Linked DNA regions of Homo sapiens. The protein of the gene in region 2 interacts with the protein of the main gene of each other region in a pairwise test. Each region holds a gene or a part of one and is shown on either strand. Other genes may lie near its edges.

Region 1 (5,019 bases), on a different chromosome or scaffold from region 2:
GAATGAATAAATGAATGAATGCATACATGATCAAATGAATGAGTGAAAGCCTTACTGAAATGGTACAGATACCTTCTTTACTTTCCACCAAGGTTTCAATGTTTACGAATTTGTTATTTGCACCTCACAAGTTGCAAACCACACAGTTCTGGAGGCTGCATGTAATGGGGCTATGAGGTGGTGTGACTTCTCACCCTGAAGAGCTGGTGGTTTCCTTTGCCTACTGGTTGAACTCATGAGGGGAAGCTTCTTTCTGCAACTAGCTTTGGGACAGAATTTATTGAGTGTCCAGAGACCAGATCTATTGGTCTCCCTAGGTCCTGTTTCAGTCACTGGTTTAAAAAACCCCAAAGTATGATTAACCCTAATTATTTATCATCTGAATGGGTTCTGAGGAGAGAGGGGAAGGCAGAACAGATGCATCCTCAGTCCCAGCATCCCCCTCTCCACGCCTCTGTCTTCACACACTGTGAAGCTCCCCTCAGCCTCCAGCAGCCCTCTCTGAGGGAAAGTCATCTTCTCCTCTGTCATTATGTGGAGGGTTTCTCCTTTCTCCCCACCCATTCTCACTCGAGGAGGTCTTTCCATCCTCCCCCACACCCTTACCATGAGGGTCTCAGACTTTCCCCTCAACCCCACGTAGTGAGTAGTGCCTCGTTTTTCTCACTGAGCACCTATTTAAAATTTCCTCTACTCTATTATGCAATACATACTTTCTCATTGAGGAATATTCAGAAAATGAATGAAAATAGGAAAAAACCAAGCCACCTAAGCTTTCACCCTCCCTAAACAACTGGTGTTACTATTTTGATGTTTTTTCTTCCAAATTTTTCCCTGTAGAGATTTTTTCTAAAACACAGCTGTAATCATATAGCACATTAAATTTGCATTCTACTTTTTATATTTGTGATGTCATAACATTTTCTAACTTGAAAACCCATAGTTGTTGTGTTGTTGTTGTTTTGTGAGTCAGAGTCTCACTCTGTTGCCCAGGCTGGAGTGCAGTAGCACAATTATAGCTCACTGCAGCCTCAACCTACCAGGCTCAAGCGACCCTCCCTCTTCAGCTCCTTCCTGAGTAGCTGGGACTACAGGCATGCACCACCATGCCTGGCTAATTTTTGTATTTTTTTGTAGAGATGGGGCTTTGCTAAGTTGCCTAGGGTGGTCTTGAACTCCTGAGGTCAAGTGATCCTCCTACTTCAGCCTCCCAAAGTGCTGGGATTACCGACATGAGCCACCACTCCTGGCCAACCCATAGTTTTTTTTAAACAATTTTTTTTTTTTTTTGAGACAGAATCTCACTCTATCATCCAGGCTGGAGTGCAGTGGTGCGATCTCGGCTCACTGCAACCTCCACCTCCCGGGTTCAAGAGATCCTCCTGCCTCAGCCTCCCAAGTAGCTGGGACCACAGGCACATGCTAAAAATTTGTTATTTTTAATTTTATTTTTGATTCAGAAGCTACATGTGTAGGTTACACAGGTATATTTCATGATGCTGAGTATAACCCATAATTCTTTTTTTGAGATGGAGTCTTGCTCTGTCGCCTAGGCTGGAGTGCAGTGGCGCGATCTTGGCTCACTGCAACCTCCCCGTCCTGGGTTCAAGCAATTCTCCTCCCTCTGCCTCCCAAGAAGCTGGGATTACAGGGGCTCACCACCATGCCCGGCTAATATTTTTTGTATTTTTAGTAGAGACGGGGTTTCATCATGTTGGCCAGGCTGTTCTTGAACTCCTGACCTCAAGTAATCCACCTGCCTCGGCCTCCCAAAGTGCTGGGATTACAGGCGTGAGCCACTGCTCCCGGCCTAACCCATAATTCTTAATGTCTATGTATGAACAGACCTTCACCTGTGGTGGTCAGTTTCTTTGGCAGTTTCCAGAATTTCACTATTGCAAATAGCAAAATAATGCATCTTTTTGTATGTGAATCTCACAATATCTGTTTTATTAAGATAGTAAAGAAGACTTTTTTACTACAATAGGGTTTTGCAGTAGGGAGAGAGATCTGGCTCAATTCCTTCACAATGCCTTTCTGAGAGAAGATAATCCTCAATCCCATTCTTGCCCAACAAGCATTTGTTATTAAGTTTTTCAACACTTTCATCACTTGGTAGGGAGGTCTCCATTCAAGATATGTGTCAGGGAACATATCAAAAGCAGCCATTCCCCTTTCCCCTTCCCCATGTTTTTCACTTAAGTATAAGAGATGGTGAGCTCTGTATTGGTAGGGATGTTCATCTTACGTGCCAGACTGACCTAGCACAGGTGTTTGTTTGTTTGTTTGTATTGGAGTTTTGCTCTCGTTGCCTAGGCCGGAGTGCAGTGGTGCCATCTCAGCTCACTGCAACCTCCACCTCCCAGGTTCAAGCGATTCTCATGCCTTGGCCTCTCGAGTAGCTGGGATTACAGGTGCACACCACCACGCTCAGCAAATTTTTGTATCTTTAGTAGAGATGGGGTTTCACCATGTTGGCCAGGCTGGTCTTGAACTCCTGACCTCAGATGACCCACCCACCTTGGCCTCCCAAAGTGCTGGGATTACAGGTGTGAGCCACCATGCCGGGCCGCATAGGTTCTTAATAAATATCTATTGAATGAATTAACCATCTTTAAAGGTTTACAAGTACCCACTGCCCCCCGTGCCCCACCAGTCTCACTGCCTGACTCCAAGTCTCCTACACTAGATTTACAATGTGACTTCAGACTCGGTCTCTTTATTGGGATGGGTTCTGGCACAGCCTTAAAACCTAGACTTTTCTTTTGCAGCACAAGTGCATAAATGAAGCCTGGCTGGAGGTCCTTGTCCTTGGGCCATGCACACTTCTGTGTCTCCATTATAGTATCTGCCAAACATGGTCAGCTACCCTGATTCTTCATCTTTGTGAACTTTGACCTTCAAGTCCTGTGGATCCACACCTGGCCCTCTGGGAATCTGTGGTCAGGCCTGCTACAACTGCTCATGAAAGTAGTTCATTCATTTGGAGCCAATTTCATGAGGGCAGACAGCATGTCTGACCAATTAGTGTAAGCTCAGCATAGTGCTGGGCACATAGTTTATAGAGCCAATTAATACATCCATTTTTGTCAGGTGCATCTGCTTCTGCTGGACTTGTCTGTCTGTTTTGGTCTTCTTGCCCTCCTGGTAGCAAGACTCTTGGTATAATCCTGACATCCAAGCCCTGGGATGGAATGAAACTCCAGACACTGACCTGGAGCCATCATTAATACAACAGGCTGTCATTAATATGTGTGACCTTGCATTTACATTTTTATAGGAATACTTCTAAGCACTTTTTTTATGGTTTGCTGACATTCACAATCCCATTTTTGGGATGAAGTGATTAAACCTTCTGGGTTTGAGGAGATTTCTCAGCAGTGGATGGAATTATGAACTCTTAAATCTAAAGAAGCATCAGAGATAATTTATCCTGGAAAAAAGTCAACGTTCTTCATTCTTCCTTGATGTTTCTAGTCAAATCAGTGAATTCTTCTGATTGTTTTCTTTGGGCCGAGAATTGTTTTTTTTTTGAGCAGAGACTTAGGGGAGTGCACTGCTGTCTAGATAACATTCTCATAGGCAAATAGCCTTGGTGTGTCTGGCATCGTGAGCAGTGAGTGGGGATTTTCCATCTGAAGACAGACAAAAAGAAAGTAGAGTGAGGGAGGTGAGCAGGGCTCTGGATCGTCCATGGAGACCCTGACATCCAGGAAACTTTATTTCCAAGGTTACCCAACCCAAATCGGCTGGCATGCTGGCTCCCACTGTTTGATTTTAATCACCCCTAGCTTAGAGAAACTATTCTGTAAGTTTAACGCATATTTATCTTGCTGAATGCTTAATGAACTGAACTTTCCTTGTTCAGTTGTAATAATTCACTAAACCAACCTTTTCTATTACTAAGCAAACTGCTTTAATGATTCTTATCTTTTTGGATCTGTTTGGGAGAGGAAGAAAAAGGAGACAGAAAGATACCATTACTGCTGCCAACCGTACTCTGTGAAGGAATAAGCCTTAAAGCTACTGCATTAGTAGTTTAACTGAGGGGAGGGTGCAAAGCAGATGTAACATAGCTGGACCATGGGAGAAAAGTAGAGATCTCTCCCTCCTGCAGTTTCCTGGTGTCTCAGGAGAAAGCTGGACTCTCCTCTCAGCTATTCCTCTCTTCATTCCATGCACAATCTAAGCCATGGTCTTTTTCCTTGTCTGCAACTTCAGTCAGAAGGCTTTTGATTTTCTTTATTATTCCGATCTAGAACCTCTGTCCTACTCTATTTGTTCCAGATTACCCAATTCGATTCCTAAAACACAATTCTCTTCCATCCCCCATGTTCTTGTATAACCCTAAGCAAAGGGAATGGGGAACTACTAGGGTACTTTTTAATTCTAGAGAGTATGAGATACCTGGGTCCAAGAAATTTTGACCTAAACATGAAGCAGGAAAAGAAATGGAACCATTAAGATGAAGTTAAGCTCTAAAGCTTCTTACCTTTTTCGGTATTTCCACAGTGGAGTAAACCGTATTTGCTGGATCTTCCTTTAGGATTGTTCTCTTTTAAAAACAAACAACAAACAAAAGAAATCATCACCCACCTCCTGAATCACATAGACAAGGCCAGAGAGACATTCAGAATCCAGAGAGGGGAAAGCAGAGATGGGAGGAGATGTGAGAGGAAAAGGAGGGTTCTGGAACAGGGAAGGGAGGTAGGAAGTTCTCTTGTTGGTGACTGCTATTATAATAAATTTTGATAACTTTTTTCAGGAAGCCATTACATTATTTTTAAACTGTACTGTGTTAAAATGAATTTCAAAAATATTATATATATATGTGTGTGTATATATATATATATATATATATATATATATATATATATAGAGAGAGAGAGAGAGAGAGAGAGAGAGAGAGAGAGAGAGAGAGAGATCTCTAGAGAAGTCTTCTGATACCATGATTCAAACATCCTGTCAAAGTCACACTCTTCTACCCACTGCCTTATGCAAAAGGAATCTGGCCTTTTG
Region 2 (5,481 bases):
AAGAAAATCTTCCATATAGATTATTTGAAATGATTAACCAGAGCTGTATGTAAAATTCCGGGTTACTCTCAGCCTGAGTACAACAATATACCTACTAGTAATAAAAAAAAAATCTAAAGAGGGGACAACAAACACATACTGTTGAAGTTTATTTCATCGGTATACCAGCAAAGAGAAGACATTTATGGGAAGAAAATATAAAAATATTATGAAAAATGATCACTGTTTGAGTTTTATCTAGATCAGTCACCTGACTGCTTGCATGAGAGGGAAAGGACCCCCTGGTGTATGGGTGGCACCATCTAATAGCAGTGCTTCCCAAATGGAGGCAAGTTTGCCCCTTGGGAGATATCTGGCAATGTCTGGAGACATTTCTTATTATAATGACAGGGGTTGGGGGACGCTACTAGTGTCTAGTGTCTAGAGGGCCAGGGACATTGCTAACTATCCCATAATGCACACAATAGCACCCCACAGCAAAGAGTTATCTGGTTCACAACGTCAGTAAGGCTAAAACCGAAAAAATATTCTACAGAATGTCTAAAGCCTGTGTAGCTCAGCTATGGAAAAATTCCCTTATTGGCATCAAATACCTGGGCAAAGTAGCTGGTCATTTTTGGGGGGATGGGTTCCTTAAGATGGTCAAGCTCTGTTCCCCTGAACCTCCTGCCTTTAGCCAGTCCCCACATAGGTGGGAACATAGCCCTGACCAACAGTTAACTCCTCCCATGTGTAAGGGCAGTTTTTAGAGGAACAGAAGGCAGCTTGGTACTTTAAATGGTCTTCATATTCTACAACTTAACCAACCTCTCTCCCTAATTAGGTCTTTCCACTTCCACTAAAAAGCAGGGCTGTGAAACAGAGCACAAGAAAGAGTTTGTTAAGGGTTACTTGCATTCTCAGTGGAATACACAAATATACATAATTTGAATACTTCAATGCCTAGCACACTGAAGGTACTCAAATTCTGAATTAAGTCACATTAAGTAATTAGTATGTCAATATTCCTAAATTAATGATGCATATTTTGGAGCTGGAAACTTTGAGGATGTGTTTTGTAATTTCAAGGCTTTATTTATAACAACTCTTCCCTTTTTTTTTTTTTTTTTTTTTGAGATGGAGTCTCGCTCTGTCACCCAGACTGGAGTGCAGTGGCACGATCTTGGCTCACTGCATCCGCCTCCTGGGTTCAAGCAATTCTCCTGCCTCAGCCTCCCGAGTAGCTGGGATTACAGGCACACGCCACCATGCCCAGCTAATTTTTGTATTTTTAATAGAGACAGGGTTTCACCATGTTGGTCAGGCCGGTCTCAAGCTCCTGACCTCGTGATCCGCCCACCTTGGCCTCTCAAAGTGCTAGGATTACAGGTATGAGCCACTGTGCCCGGCCAACTCTTCCCTTTTAAGATACTTTAAGATACCAGTTACTATCCTTCAAGAAGAGGGAAAACTTTAAAAATTAATAGCATTTATTTTTTCCTATTTACTTAAGGGAAGCAGTGATCATTGTAGAGAATGAGAAACGTATAGAGTTCTCAAGACAAAAATAAAAATTTAACACCCAGAGACAACCAAGACTAACATTTTTTATACTTTTCGGTATTTTTTTCTCATCATATAAAATATATTTTTCAAAAACAAAATCATATTATTTGTATAATAGTATTTTAGCATGAGATTTCTCCCAAATTATTTAAAAATTTTATTTTACAAATTCACTGTTAATGCTGGCAGTATATTCCAAATTAAAGATGCACATAACCTAAGTTTAGAAACATTATTTATTTATTTATTTATTTATTTATTTATTTATTTATTTATTTTTGAGACAGAGTCTCACTCTGTCACCCAGGCTGGAGTGCAGTGGCACGATCTTGGCTCATTGCAACCTCCGCCTCCTGGGTTCAAGCTATCCTTCTGCCTCAGCCTCCCGAGTAGCTGAGATTACAGGTGTGTGTCACCATGCCTAGCTAATTTTTTGTATTTTTAGTAGAGATGGGGTTCTGCCACGTTGGCCAGGCTGATCTCAAACTCCTGACCTCAAGTGATCCGCCTGCCTCGGAAAGTGCTGGGATTACAGGTGTGCGGCACTGCAGAGCCACCGCACATGGTTGGAAACATTTTGATTAACTTTCAATGTACAGTTTTCTATTGGAATTGAACATCTTTGAGCATAATTTCTGATTGTCTTCAAGGCTCTTTTTATATACTACAAAATTACTTTCTCTTACTAAGAGAGATAAATGAAAAACGGTATCTCATTTCTACTTGCATTTTATAATAGTAAACAAAGACTGAACATTTAAAAAATATTTTTTGTAATCTGTATTTCTTTTCCTGTGTTTCTTTTTCATGTCCCATTACTACTTTTCTTTTTAAAATACATTTGAAAAACTTATTATGTCTTTATTATGAAGGTAATGAATGTTTAGAAAAATTAGAAAATATGGGCCAGGTGTGGTGGCTCACGCCTATATTATTTCAGCACTTTGGGAGGCCAAGGCAGGAGAACTGCACGAGACCAGGGGTTTGAGACCAGTCAGGACAACATAGTAAGACCCCATCTTTAAAGAAACAAAACTTTCAAAAAATTTTAAAAAAGAAAAATTAGAAAATACACTTAAACGGCTGGGCACAGTGGTTCATGCCTGTAATCCCAGCACTTTGGGAGGCCAAGGCAGGCAGATCACCTGAGGTCAGGAGATCAACAGCAGCCTGGCCAACATGGTAAAACTCCGTCTCTGGCCAGGCACAGTGGCACATTCCTGTAATCCCAGAACTTAGGGAGGCCGAGGTGGGTGGATCACCTAAGGTCAGGAGTTCAAGATCAGCCTGACCAACAAGGTGAAACCCCATCTCTACTAAAAATACAAAAATTAGCCAGGTGTGGTGGCAGGCACCTGTAGTCCCAGCTACTAGGGAGGCTGAGACAGAAGAATTGCTTGTATCTGGGAGGCGGAGGGTGTAGTGAACCGAGATCACGCTACTGCACTCCAGCCTGGGCGATGGAGCGAGACTCCGTTTCAAAAACAAAAACAAAAACAAAAAAAAACTAAACAAAAAAACCCCTCTGGTCTCTACAAAAATACAAAAATAAGCCAAGCGTGGTGGCGGGCACCTGCAATCCCAGCAACTCGGGAGGCTGAGGCAGGAGAATCGCCTGAACCCAGGAGGCGGAGGTTGCAGTGAGTGGAGATCATGCCACTACACTCCAGCCTGGGCAACAGAAACTCCATCTCAAAAAAAAAAGAAAATACACATACACATTTCAGTATTTTTCTTGTGTTTCTGTAGGAGTATTATATTAAGAATTAAAAATAATTTTCTCTGTCTTATCTTTCCATTTTAAGATTTTTACATAGAGAAAAATTTTACTTTTTATGTAATCAAATTGTTTGAATCTTCCTTTTGTGGTTTCTTCTATTATTTTTATACCCGTGTTTTTTCACCTTGAGATCAAATACACATGTATGCTTTCCTTTTGTTTCTAACAGTTTAGGGTGCTTTTTTTTTTACACTTTGAAAATGTAATCCTGGTCGGGCGCGGTGGCTCACACCTGTAATCCCAGCACTTTGGGAGGCCAAGGAGGGCAGATCACCTGAGGTTGGGAGGTCGAGACCAGCCTCACCAACATGGAGAAACCCTGTCTCTACTAAAAATACAAAATTAGCCAGGCGTGGTGGCTCATGCCTGTAATCTCAGCTACTCGGGAGGCTGAGGGTGGGAGAATCACTTGAACCCAGGAGGCAGAGGTTGCGGTGAGCCGAGATCATGCCATTGCACTCCAGCCTGGGCAACAAGAGTGAAACTCCATCTCAACAACAACAACAAAATGTAACCCTTCTGTGAGTTGTAAAGTATGGTGAGCAGTAAGGACCTCAATTTATTTTTTTCCCTAAGAGCTAATGAATTTTCCCAGTATCACCCACTGAGCCGTCCTCCCCTCTTTGTGATGCCACGTTTGTTTACCTTGTGCTGACTCATATGTTCTGCAACATTCAGCTATTTGTCAATTCTTATGCCAGTACTTCCACTGTTACCATCATCAATTTAAAGATTACTTTAATATCTGATGGGGCAAGCTGTCCATCCCTATCACCGCTCTCTAATTCCTTATTCTTGTTTTAACATATCTTGACTATCCTTTCCCATTTGTTCTTCCAGATGACATTTAGAAAACATTTTCTCAAGATTAATTTTAAAAAAAGCAAAATAAATTTTTGTAATTTTCACATGGAATTTATATTTAAATGATGAGAATACAATAAAGTTTATTATTGCCTTTTTATTGAAGCCTTGCAGACAAAAACACTGGGTTTAAAGGCCCTAGACTTGGAATACATCTGTAGATATGTCAGGTGTAGTCACAAAGGAACAAAGCCTGGGTGCCACAATGCTGCCCTCTTGTGGCAGCCAGAGGCTGCACACTCCAGTCCCAGCAAGGGATGATACTGTTGTATAAAGTGAACCAGAATCCCACCCCTAAACTGTAAAGGCAGCATAGGAAAGTCTACTATGTGGAATGATTCATGAGATGCCTTTTTGCTTCCATGACAGATTCCTTCATAACTAGTCTGTCGCAGGTCTGAATTTTTATCATTGCAGATTGATTCCTTGTTGCAACCTCAGGGTTCTTCATTTGAACCACAAAACTCAGAAAATCATTGGTGTGGCTATTTCTGCATTTCTCCCAATGATATTATATGCCTAGAAATTAATTTATTACATACGCTGGATGCCTAGGACTTTGTGTTTAATTCTCTTAGTAAAATCCTGGTTGAGAATAGACCTGCCTTTGTAAATGAAAACATCCCTGATATTACAAAACCTAAACATTTTTAAAGGTCTAACAGGAAGACTCCTCTTACCTGGCTTGCTGTCGGTCGTTTCTTTGGATCCCAATTCAACATTTCGGTCATGAGCTGAATAGCTTCATTACTGGCATTGGGAATAAGAGTTTTTAAGTTTATAGGAACACACTGGGGAAAACGGAAGTTCATAGAGGATGCCAGCTGGTATCCTTCTGGCCAGTCACTCTGTTTCAGGAATATATAAGTGCAGGTGGGGAGGGCAAAACAAATTGTTTTTAGTAATCCATTTAAAAAACACAGCAGTAATATAAACATCATTTATGTTTGAACATTTTCATGTTGATCCATATAAACATGAAAATGAAATACCAGACCACGTCTATAATTTAGTGCTACGACAGTATAGAAAGAACATTAAGCTGAGAGTTAGGAAACAATGCGAAAAGCACTTTTATAGCTTTTTTTTGTTTGTTTTTTTGTGTTTTTTTTGAGACAGGATCTGGCTCTGTTATCCAGGTTGGAGTGCAGTGGAGCAATCATGGCTCACTACAGCCTCACCCTCCCGGGCTCAAAAGATCCTCCTACCTCAGACTCCTGAGTAGCTGGGACTACAGGTGCGCACCATCACACCTGGCTAATTTTTTTTTGTGGAGACGGGGTTTCACTATG

The links.
Region 1: the proteins of MAK (region 2) and SLAMF7 interact in a two-hybrid assay, tested with the Homo sapiens proteins (one large-scale study listed by BioGRID and IntAct).

What each region holds. Positions count from the first base shown.
Region 1 is NC_000001.11:160,751,722-160,756,740, reverse strand, and holds the end of SLAMF7 (SLAM family member 7 isoform a precursor), read right to left. Parts: intron 4,556-5,019; coding exon 4,493-4,555; intron 3,636-4,492; coding exon 3,564-3,635; 3' UTR 1,920-3,563; downstream 1-1,919. UniProt on the Homo sapiens protein: Self-ligand receptor of the signaling lymphocytic activation molecule (SLAM) family.
Region 2 is NC_000006.12:10,797,023-10,802,503, forward strand, and holds part of MAK (serine/threonine-protein kinase MAK), read right to left. Parts: intron 5,038-5,481; coding exon 4,870-5,037; intron 1-4,869. UniProt on the Homo sapiens protein: Essential for the regulation of ciliary length and required for the long-term survival of photoreceptors. Phosphorylates FZR1 in a cell cycle-dependent manner. Plays a role in the transcriptional coactivation of AR.